4 separate regions of the Homo sapiens genome follow, and regions 1, 2 and 4 are each linked to region 3. The links come from fine-mapping of genetic effects on gene expression. A gene starts in region 3. Each other region holds a variant in brackets. All regions are shown on one strand. Distances are from middle to middle.

Region 1 (2,690 bases), 200 kb before region 3:
ATGCACTAAGCAAGTGTTAACAATTTTCAAAAACTATGCATTGTAAAAATTACATTATCTAACCACAATGCAATTAAGTCAGGTGTCTATAATAAAAAGGATTAAAAGACAAAAACACATACCACTTCCAAATACTGTATAGAAAACACACTTTCAATGATGAAAATTATAATGGAAATTAAAGACACTCTGATAATGAAAACATGATGAATTAAAACCTGTCATATGTATTCTTCTCAAATGCTTACATTTGAGAAGAAGACAGCCTGAGGTAAATAATTTTTAAAATATGGAAGGATAAATTAAAAGAGAAGTCGGGCCAGGTGCAGTGGCTCACACCTGTAAACCTAGCACTTTGGGAGGCTGAGGCAAGAGGGCTGCTTGAGCTCAGGAGTTCCAGACCAGCCTGGGCAACATAGTGAGACTCCATCTTTACAAAAAAACTTAAACATTAGCTGGGCGTGGTGGCGTGTGCCTATGGTCCCTGAGGTGGGAGGATCATTTGAGCCCAGGCATTTGAGGTTGCAGTGAGCTACAATTGTGCCACTGTACTCTAGCCTAGGTGACAGTGAGACCTCGCCTCTTAAAAAAAAAAAATAAAAAAAAAGCACAAGTCAATGAAATAGAAAACAAAAACACCAAAAAAAAAAAAAAATCAATAAAGCCAGAATAATGTTGTTAAGTCTTTGAAAAGATCGGCAAAATAAACTTCTAGTGACAGACTGATGGCAAGACAAAAAGCAAAAAGTACACATATTATGAGGTGGGTGCGCTAGTAAAAATAAAGACACCAGAGAAATGAGAGAATGCTATCTGCTCAAACAAAAGAAGAAAAAAAATTAACAACTTATGCCAATACGAGTGCATGTTTATATTTTAAAAACCTGCCCCAGATTATACCGTACAACAGTGAGTAACCACATTAACAGATAACAGTTGCTTGCAGTATCACTTCACACTTGTGAATATATCTAGTAATACCAAACTCCTCATCAGCAAAGGTACCTGACACCATTTCAATTATCCCCTTTTAAAACACAGTATAGAAAACCACACAAACATATAGCTTAATGAATTTTTGTAAGGCAAAACACCCTTCTGACTACCATCCAAGTCAAAAGAGAGAACGTCATCTGCCACCCCAGAAGCCTCTCTGTGTGCTCCATCTTTATCGGTCCTCTTCAAAAGCAACCACTATGTGCTTTTTATATTAACGCCTAGAGGTTCTTTATAATTTCACACACACTGGGTATCCCTAGCCACTACAATTTAATCCTGCTCCTTTTATTTTCCTTTGATTTGCCTTTTAATCTCAATTTCTCAGGCTATTCAACCCACAGTGTCCCAAACACTATTTTTCCGGCTGCACACTCATGGTGAAGCTCAACCAACATACTCCTCTGGCCTCTGCAACTTCTTGCAAACTGACTGCTGGACTGGGAGCTTGATGACTTAGGTTTACATTTTTGGCAAGACAAAAGTTCTGTTCTTTTGTATCAAGAGGCACAAAACAACTGGTTTTCACTCTTAAAAGCATAACTCTAATCCTACCATCTTGTTCTCTTATCAGCTGAAATCATTTTAAAAGAAAATGTTTCTCTCATCTACT[A/G]TATCAGAGGTTGGCAAATCTTTTAGGCTATTTTAGGCTATGCAAGCTATATGGTCTGTTGCAACTATTCAACTAAGGCTGTAGTATGAAAGTAGCCACGGACAATACATACATGAATAGGCACGGTTTGGTTCCAACAGATGCCAACTCCTGTCCTATGGGGTTACCCAGTGGTATCGTTCTCACAGAAAAGACAGCATAAATGTTCAATTATTTTATTTACCCAGTTTTCAAGACAATGAATGATTATCTACTACCTTCCAGAAGGTGACTAGTTAGAGCTTATTTTTTTAAAATGTCATTATGAAATTGTGGATTTAAATGGGCTTTAATTCACCGCGATATTTACACCTACTGAATCTCAAATAATTCCATTTTTGGCCAATGGAAACCTCTAAGTTGGCGCCTGCATCCTTTGGACGTGGTCTACCATTCATTGACAGCTTCTTTGCTATCTGGGATGTTGAGCCATTCCAGGATCATGTTAACATTTCCTGCCCCAGACCTGGAAAAAGACATTTCTCAAGAAGCCTAGTTCTTTGTTTTTTTATTTTTATTTTTTCTTGAGACGGAATCTCACTCTGTTGCCCAGGCTGGAGTACGGTGGCACAATCTTGGCTCACTGCAACCTCCGCCTCCCGGATCCAAGCGATTCTCCTGGCTCAGCCTCCCGAGTAGCTAGGACTACAGGCGCACACCACAACACCCAGCTAATTTTTTTGTATTTTTAGTAGAGATGGGGTTTCACCACACTGGCCAGGCTGCTTTTGAACTCCTGACCTCAGGTGATCTGCCCACCTCGGCTTCCCAAAGTGCTGGGATTACAGGCGTGAGCAACTGCACCCAGCCCAAGAAGCCTAGTTTTTTAAATAGGAAGTATTCCAAGACCACAATCTGGGAACTACAGATGATGCTAAGGGTTGATGAATGTTTCTATGCCTTCTAGTAGACAGAACTAGAAAAAAATGTATTTATATATAAAATACACTGTGAGTTCCGAAACATTTCCAATGTAAATTCAGGACAACAGGCTTTTACTTGTCTGAAGCTCATCCTCCATTAGATTTCCTAAGAAAAGTTC
Region 2 (2,690 bases), 84 kb after region 3:
TGGGTTTTCTTTTAACTTTTCTGGCCACTCCTGTTTCCTGTTGACTCCTTTCTCATTGCTCTACCTCTAATTGGTGGAATGCCCAAATAGTTAGACCTGAGGTCCTTCTTGTCAGGATCTGTAGGTTCTCCTGAGTGATCTCAGCAGTCCCTCTGTATCATCTATATGCCGAGTATATCCTAAACTTGCTTCTCTCAAGAGTTTGTCATCTCATTGAATGAGTTTCCCATCTCATTGATGGGCACCGCCATCTATCTGTATAGTTGCTTAAAGTACGGGCATGTTGCATGAGTCCTCTGTTTCCCACCCCTGCCATTTTGTTCTCCACTCACCAGCAAGTCCTGCCTGATACGATATCTAGAACACATCCAGAATCTGTTTGTTTCTCTCCATTTCTGCTCCTGCCACCCTCATTCCACGCATCTTCCTGTGTGGAGAGCTGACAGCCTTTTTATCGGCCTCCTTTCTTCTACCCTTGCTCCCAATAATTGATCCTCCGTGGAACAGCCACAATGATCTTTTAAAAATATGAATCTGATTTCTCTTGACCCGCAGCTTAAAATTCTCTATCGGTTCCTCTTTCCACTCGGCATAAAATCTGCTTTCTGGTGCTGGCCTGCAGCACCCTGAGTGCTGGCTGTGCTGACCTCCTTTCCAAGGCTGGTCTTGAGCCGTCTTCCTCTAACCTATGCTGCACTTCTTTCTGCTTTCCTTGAATAAAACAAGCTCCTCCTGATCTGAGGGCCTTTACGGGACCTCTTTTTTTTTTTTCTCCTAGGATTATCTTCTGCCCAATTTTCATAGGACTGGCTTCTCCTCGCCTCTGAAATCTCAGTCCAAATGTCATGTCCTCCAAGAATCTTTCTCTAACCGCCCACTCCTGCTGGGCACCCTCTGTTGTAGCATACTGTTAGGAGTCTCTGCATCATGCCTCTAACTCTTTGAAAAAAAGTTCTATTTGTTAGTTTAATAAACTAAAACTAAAAAATTTATAAACCAAATTTCAAAATTTTAAAAATTAATAAACTAAAAACAGTACAATGATATCTCTGTGAAGTCAAGGGAGGAGAGAGTTTTAAGAAGGGGAACTTAATTAGCAGCACTAAAGGCTCTACAACGACTCAAGATAATGATAATGATGATGATGATGATGGTGATAATGACAGTGATAACTAACATTTATTGTTACTATGAACCTGGAAGAGTGCCAGGCATTTTGCGTACATTATCATATTTAATTCTGACAGATTAAAAGTCCTGACAATGCCTCTACTGTCAAGGAATGTTATTCTCATTCTCAGAACACTGAGACTTAGGGAGGTCAGTCAAAGTGCCTGGCACATGGTAGCTTTCGATTAATGTTTGCTATGTGAGTAAATAAATTTCCACAAGGTCCTGGAGCTGGTGAATGGTAGAGTTGAGAGTCTAACTTAGATCTGACTGAATCCAAAGTCCGTATTTGTAACCACTGGTCTATATTTGCTCAGATGAAGACAGAGAACCCCTTAACAGATTGAGAAAAGGAAGCCTAATATAGGATAAATGATTTCTTATTTATTTAAAACATATGATAAATAAAA[C/T]TAATTTTCAGTCCAAAACCTTCTGAATTTTGGAATTCTGGACTCCATTCATTCAATTCATTTGAAGGCATAGGTGAGTTCTTTAAAAGAAGCATTAGGAATGAATCCAGATTGAACAATTTTCTTATTAAAATACCCTAAAGATGCATTCTTATGATGAGCCAGGTTCATTGTCCAGGAAAGCTATTAAAACTCAGTCTTTGTGATGAGTGCAGTAAGAACCCCACTTGAATTACGTAGTGAGCAGGTGCTTCCTAAACCAAGTTTCATGTTTGACAAGCTAGGAGAGAACCCAGTGTTAAATGTTTTCTGGCATGTTGGCCTTTGGTTTCTCATATTATGGGACATATGTTTAGTGCTTGTGGTATATGCTTAGCCTACTCTTGTAGGATGACTGAGACCTCACACAACATCAAGGACATAGTCTTTGCCTTTGCTGAGTTCAGAGTGTAATTGGAGTGATGAAACATACATGTGAATAAATGCAAAGTCACAAGTAAAGACAGTTAATGTGATTGATGAAGGACGTGTGGCACAAGATGGATAAGAATGAGAAGTAGAAGAAGTAGGTGGTTTTGAACTTTCGTTACTCAGGGAAGGGAATGTATGTGGATTGGTGGAGAAGAGAGGGGAGGAAGATGGTTTTAAGCACTGGTAAGATGGTGCATATTTGCAAGTTTTGCTCAAGGGATAGAAAGGGCTGAGACCCAGTGGGGAGGAATCAGAGGGGAATCGGCAAAGAGAATTAGGGAAATGAGAACTGTCAGTAGAGGAAGTGAGATTAGGCTGGCCGGGAGCTATTTGGGGTTTCTGAGTACTGATGTTACATGAAGGAATATTTGTGAGGGATAAATATTGCAGTGGGTGCATTTGAGAGCAAAACCAGATTCAGGCCCAGTTAGGGAAGGGTTTCTTAAACGTCGGCCTTTCCTATGCCATCTTCACTTTTTAATTTTTTGGTGGCCATATTTAGATATCAGCTGTGTCACTATATACTTAATATTTTCTGTAAGTTGATTTCACTTTTAAAAACTTAAATTTAGCTTTGCCCTATGCAATAAACTTATCATTGTTTACTGAATGCTTTTCTTTAAATTTAACCCCTTAAAT
Region 3 (2,690 bases):
GTCAGAATAGTTTGCTGATCAATGAATAGTTATCTCCTACATTCGGAGTAGCACTTATTTTGATCAATGACTATATAATAAAGGCAGACTCATTCAAAGAAAGACATCAAGGAATCATCTAGCAGCTTGGTTTAAAGGCAGTCTTTTAAATAGATAAAAACACTGAATTGGGAGGGGCGGGGAGTCTATAAAGATTGCCTCATTTGACTCGAGGAAAGAATGATACTGGCTCAGAAAGTGTGAAAATGCAAATTATTTGGTTTGGGCCGATTTGTAGATATTTAAGATTGTATTTCCCCACCCCCAACCCCACCACATGATGTCCACCTGACTCAAGAAATCAGTAGAGAACAGGTGTATATGGTGAGTACGGATTGCTGCTAAAACTGCAGTCCGCTGACCAGCAACACCGCATTACTTGGAATTTATTATAAATGCAAAATCTCAGCCACCCCCAAGGGACCTACTGAATCATAATCTGCATTTTAACATGACCCTGAGGGGATTCCTATTCACAGAAAGTTACAGAAACCCTGGGTTACTCAGTAGCTTTGGGGGAGGTAGTTCGTTACTGGGAGATTTCGTATTTACTGACCACTTCAAATGCGCCAGGATCTTCTCTATATTATCTGCATTTAATCCTCAAGAACTCCATGGCCTGGGTATTTGACCCTCACGTTCAAGAGATAAGAAAACTGAGGGTCGTCTCCATGGAGAGCAGAGGGGTTTGATTTGGGGCCCGGGGAGGTCTGACTCCAAAGACCAAACCTGGTTCCTCTGCCTGGGAGCTACTGAGGTTTTAAAGGCTGCACGACCCTGAGTTCAGGAGACAGGGGCCCCTGGTGTCAGGGCGACAAATTCAGGGCAAAGAAGCGGACCTGCGAGGCTGGCAAGCAGGCTCTCCCTCTTCCTTTGCGCAGGCCTGGGCAGCTCCAGGCAACACTGGCGACTCAGCCAGGGGTAGGAAGCGCCCCAAGGGGCGGCCTTGCACTCAGCTGCCCGGACCCGAGGCTGGGAGCGCCGCCTGGAGCGAGGGGCGAGGCGGCGGTAGCCCCTGACAGCTGCCCTTTACCTCTCCGGCTGCCATCCATGCTTAGTCCTCTTGCAGCCGCCGCAGGGACACGCTGTATCCCCTTCGGTCCTTCCCGCGGCCGGGCCCAGCCCCGGCAGTGGAGGACTGGAAAAGAGGAGCCGACGGGGGCTGCAGCAGCAGGGAAACCGTTGCCAGGCCGTTGCTAAGGGCTGGGTCCAGTGAGTCGCTATTGTGACGTCACGGCGCAGGGGACGTGCGTTCCGCAGCCCCGCCTGCGGGATACCCGGTACTAGGAGGACAGTTGCGGACGGAGAGACCTGGCGGGGAAGGGGCATCGAGCCCCAGTCTGTTGCTCTGGGATCCTGCCAGTCTTCCGCAGAGCGACCTCCTGTCAGGATCCGAGTCACCAGCACCTGGCAGGCTCTGTCCCTGCGGGAAGAGCAGGGAGAGGAGGTGGACTCATCTGGCATCCACGTCCCCTGGGTCCCGGAGAAAAGTGAAACACAAATGTTAGCTGAGGTCAGGGTAACATTTAACCAGTTCCAAATAATTAAATTTCAAAGCAGTCCGTGAACTTTTGGATTAGTGAAAATCCTAGGGGTGAAAAACATCTACATATTTACATCTTAATTCTTAACCTTAATAATAAGTTTGAATTTCCTTTCTGCTCGCCAAGCTTCCCCGCTCCTGTCCCTGCCTCCCTTTTATCGTAAGTTTCAATCCATTTTTATTTATAATGGAAGAGAGCTGCAACATGAATAAGGGGTTGATTTATTGATGGCTTTCTATAATTTGTTTAATTTTGAAGCAGTTACCTTTGAATCCTTGGAAATAACGTCAGATCAGGGTAGGAAGCATTCTGTCATGTAAGACTTCTCAGCCCAAATGTCCATTGACATTTTGGGCTGGTTGTATAATTCTCTGTTGTGGGGGTGCTGTCCCTATGAACTGTTTTGTAGCATCCCTGTCCTCCGTTTACTAGAAGCAAGTAGCTTCTCAGAAGCAGACCCCACCCACTCCACCTCCAATCCTGACAGTCATAAATGTCTCCAGACATTGTGAAATATTCCCTGGGGGGCAAAATCGCAACTCTGTTGAGAACCACTGCTGTAATGAAAAGAGTCCTGGTTTTGGAACCAGATATGTAGAACTTAATTCTAAATTTTTTGCTACTTACCAGCTTGATCTTGAATTAGTTTCTAAAACTTTCTGAGCCCCAGTTTTCTCTTTTCTAATGTAGATTGTGAAAGTTGTCAGAATCAAAAATAGAGTCACATGTGTTAGAAAACCTGACAAGTGGAACTGGAGAAGGCCATGAAGGAGAGTTCTCATCCATGAATGCCTGATAATAAAACTATCACAAAATACTGCGAAAACCACAACCTTGCACAAAGACCTCCACCTTACCCAAAAAGATACTTCTATGAGGACATCTGTCCAGCAATTGTCTGTCCAACCTTGAACTGACATCACCCTTGTTATTGATGCTTGGAGCCAAGGCTAATTACCTCAAAACAATTATGTAATCCTCTCCTTTTTTTATTTTTTAAAAAAACTTTTTTTTCCTTTAATTCCTTGAATATGCAAACAGTTTGCCATGGCACGCATATTCCTATTGCAATGCCCATTCCTGGGTAAATGTCATTTTCTTCTGTAG
Region 4 (2,690 bases), 22 kb after region 3:
TAAGCCAGCAAGTTCCAAACAGACTCTAGTATAGCATCACGTGACAGATAGTAGGCCCTGAAGAAAGCGAAAGTATTTTACCCCAAAATATATTTATTTGATATATTTTGAGATGGTCCTGCAAAGCTGTCTCTTGTGAGGGAAATTTGCATTCTGTAGAGAATCTCCTTCCTTTACTAGGTCTTTCTGAATAGTCTGACCGACCTTTAAAGTTCCATAGGAAACATTCACATCTATTGTCTCTGAATTCTCCTACTTGGAGGCTTCATCTACATGACAAAAACCTTGGTTTCCACAACCCACCCCTCCCCAGTTACCTTCACTCAAGCTGATTTCAACTCTTCAGGCAGAGCTTACCCCTTTCAACCAATTGCCAATCAGGAAAATTTTAAATCCACCTATGACTTAGAAGCCTAACCCCCACCTTCAAGATGTCCCACCTTTCCTGGCTACACCAATATATACCTTACATGTATTGATTTATGTCTTTACCTGTAACTTCTGTCTCCCTAAAATGCATAAAATCAAGCTATAACCCAGCCACCTTGGGCACATGTCCTTAGGACCTCCTGAGGCTGTGTCATAGGTCATGACCCTTAACCTTGGCAAAATAAATCTCTAAATTGATTGAGACTTGTCTTAGATACTTTTTCCTTTCTAAAATATAAATACTGAGTTCTTTTTTGAGCATAGGCAAAAAGTACTCTATCATCTAAAAATCCTTAATGAATAAAAAATGTCATTATTACCAAACTATACCTTGCTTTTTCTTAATCCTTAATGAATGAAAAATGTCATTATTACCAATCTATACCTTGACTTTTCTTAATTTTATTGTTAAAAGCAGGAGAGAACAGAGGTGACCACAATTCTCTATAAAGCAGTATGTGCCTGATGGTATTAGACCGAAGAGAGTTGTGATAGGATATACTGACCCCAAGTGCCTATTTTGAGTTCTCTTAAATAATAGAACTCTGATATCTGAACACAAATATAATCTTGTCCACAGAAAATGATCATTCTCAGAACTATAACACCGCACAGTTTTCACTGCACTTTTTAATATGTGTAATTCCACACCTTATTTTCATTTTTCCTACAGTTAAAAAGTGCACAAAATTGTGACTCTGTAGGTAGCTTCACTGACTTCTTTGTACTAACAGAAGATTCACTCATATTGTGACAATTTGGCTAAGGCTGCTGGTCAGGTCCACTAATAATGGCCACGGTCCTCCATCTTTCCATTTCTCCCCAGCTGCGCTCTTTAAATCTTTTCGTCCAATTAACAGAACAAGTCTCTGTGAACAGAACTTAATCATTCAGTGGTTACTAGGTAACCTGTCCCCATAGCTTAAGAAGAGCATTCCATCTATTCTTCCACTGTCAATCAATCTCCACAACAGTACATTTGGGAGGATGCTCACCCTAAAGCTTTGATAATCTCCACCGAATGCATTCTCTGTTTACAAGTGGCTTCACCATGAAAAACAAAGCAAAACAAAAAGCTTAACCAATCTGTTCATCTATCCTGATAATATCTTTTCCACTTAAAAAAATAGAATCTGAAGTTTTAACAGTTAA[A/T]GAATTTTTGAAAAGCTCTTATAAGTGCATCTACTATTCACAAACTGCCACGCACAAATCAATTTTTAAAAGCCATGATTTATGTAAGCTACCAATGAAAACCATTCTTTATTGATACTTTGCCTAGTCTTTCTAAGGGATTTCAGTCTCCACTCCAGTCACACTTTAGTTCTTTGTCTTGTTAGATGTCTGCCTGCAATATACAGAAACACTCTAAATTATTAGATTGAATGACATGAAATTGCTGTTTTATAAATAAAAAATTGTCAATTAGACAATATCACTTGGTTCTACCTAGTAGTTTGAAGTATTTGAAGAACACTATTAGAAACTTAGATTTAATTTAGACTAAATTAATTATTTCTTTAGAATATTTGAGTAAGTAATCTTAGAAAATGGAGGTGGGAGGGTGGTTCTTGACATCCTTAGACATGTTCATTCTCTGACTTAATTGAATTAAATGTGAGATTTCTCTTATCCTCTTTGAAGTCTTCCATTTCCTTGTCTGCAAACAACTTCTTAGTGTTCATTATGTTTTTAAACAAAATCTAAATTATCCAACAGTGTGAAAATGTGTTATGAAAACAGCCTATCATTCTGTAACGTTAAGTATTCACTGAAGTTTATACCTATAGGCAACCTGAGATTATGATAACATTGAGGTCACAATGAACACAGGAGCTATTAATATTTCCCACAGTGAAAGCACAGTCAAGATAGAAAGTTTGGTGGTGATCTGGGTACAGAAAGACTTCCTCTGTGTTATTTATAAGATGCAGAGTGAATGTTTCTGTACAATATCTGAACAAGGTAGAAGAAGTGATGTTCCGACACTCTTTAATTCAGTTTGTACACAAGGCTGGAGGTAAGCAAATATTTTCCCTTGTTTGTCAGAAAATTTAGGGGCTAGGAGGATGCTGGTGATTGCTAAGCAAAAGTTCTAATTTTGCAGAAAAAGCTATGGAGCCCAGAAAAGATAAGTAATTAGCCCACACAATTGGTCTTTATGACTCTTGATTTCGTGCTCATTCCACTAAATCAGGAAATAGGCAGGAAGACAATTATTTCAGTGACTTGTCCTTAGGCGTGTTCACTCTCTTATGCATGTG

Alleles and levels. Positions count from the first base shown, and alleles are read on the strand shown. Sizes are in standard deviations (SD) of each study's normalised expression. Not every link is listed here.
As copies of T replace A in region 4, the expression in liver of the gene that starts at base 1,253 in region 3 goes down (moderate effect, 0.44 SD a copy in GTEx).

Evidence for each region. PIP is the estimated chance that this variant, and not a neighbour inherited with it, causes the effect. A credible set is the group of variants that fine-mapping cannot tell apart.
Region 1: its variant is the best candidate, but not a certain one, in a credible set for the expression of SPATA7 in whole blood (TOPMed, PIP 0.85).
Region 2: its variant is the best candidate, but not a certain one, in a credible set for the expression of SPATA7 in putamen (GTEx, PIP 0.51).
Region 4: its variant is the best candidate, but not a certain one, in a credible set for the expression of SPATA7 in liver (GTEx, PIP 0.59).

The regions. Positions count from the first base shown.
Region 1 is chr14:88,581,045-88,583,734 of GRCh38, reverse strand. All of the region lies in intron 9 of ZC3H14 (zinc finger CCCH-type containing 14), which reads right to left. Among named protein-coding and RNA genes, the nearest start is that of ZC3H14, 19 kb to the right of the region's middle. The variant A/G (reference allele first, on the strand shown) is at 1,610.
Region 2 is chr14:88,299,734-88,302,423 of GRCh38, reverse strand. The region is part of intron 1 of KCNK10 (potassium two pore domain channel subfamily K member 10); the gene reads left to right. Among named protein-coding and RNA genes, the nearest start is that of KCNK10, 22 kb to the left of the region's middle. The variant C/T (reference allele first, on the strand shown) is at 1,581.
Region 3 is chr14:88,384,220-88,386,909 of GRCh38, reverse strand. SPATA7 (spermatogenesis associated 7) reads right to left here and starts at 1,253. Exons shown (of 12, transcript NM_018418.5): 1 at 1,073-1,253. The coding sequence starts at 1,091. RefSeq lists enhancers at 1,061-1,380, 1,391-1,460, 1,491-1,570.
Region 4 is chr14:88,362,523-88,365,212 of GRCh38, reverse strand. No RefSeq gene overlaps it. Among named protein-coding and RNA genes, the nearest start is that of SPATA7, 22 kb to the left of the region's middle. RefSeq lists a silencer at 154-448 and an enhancer at 1-592. The variant A/T (reference allele first, on the strand shown) is at 1,582.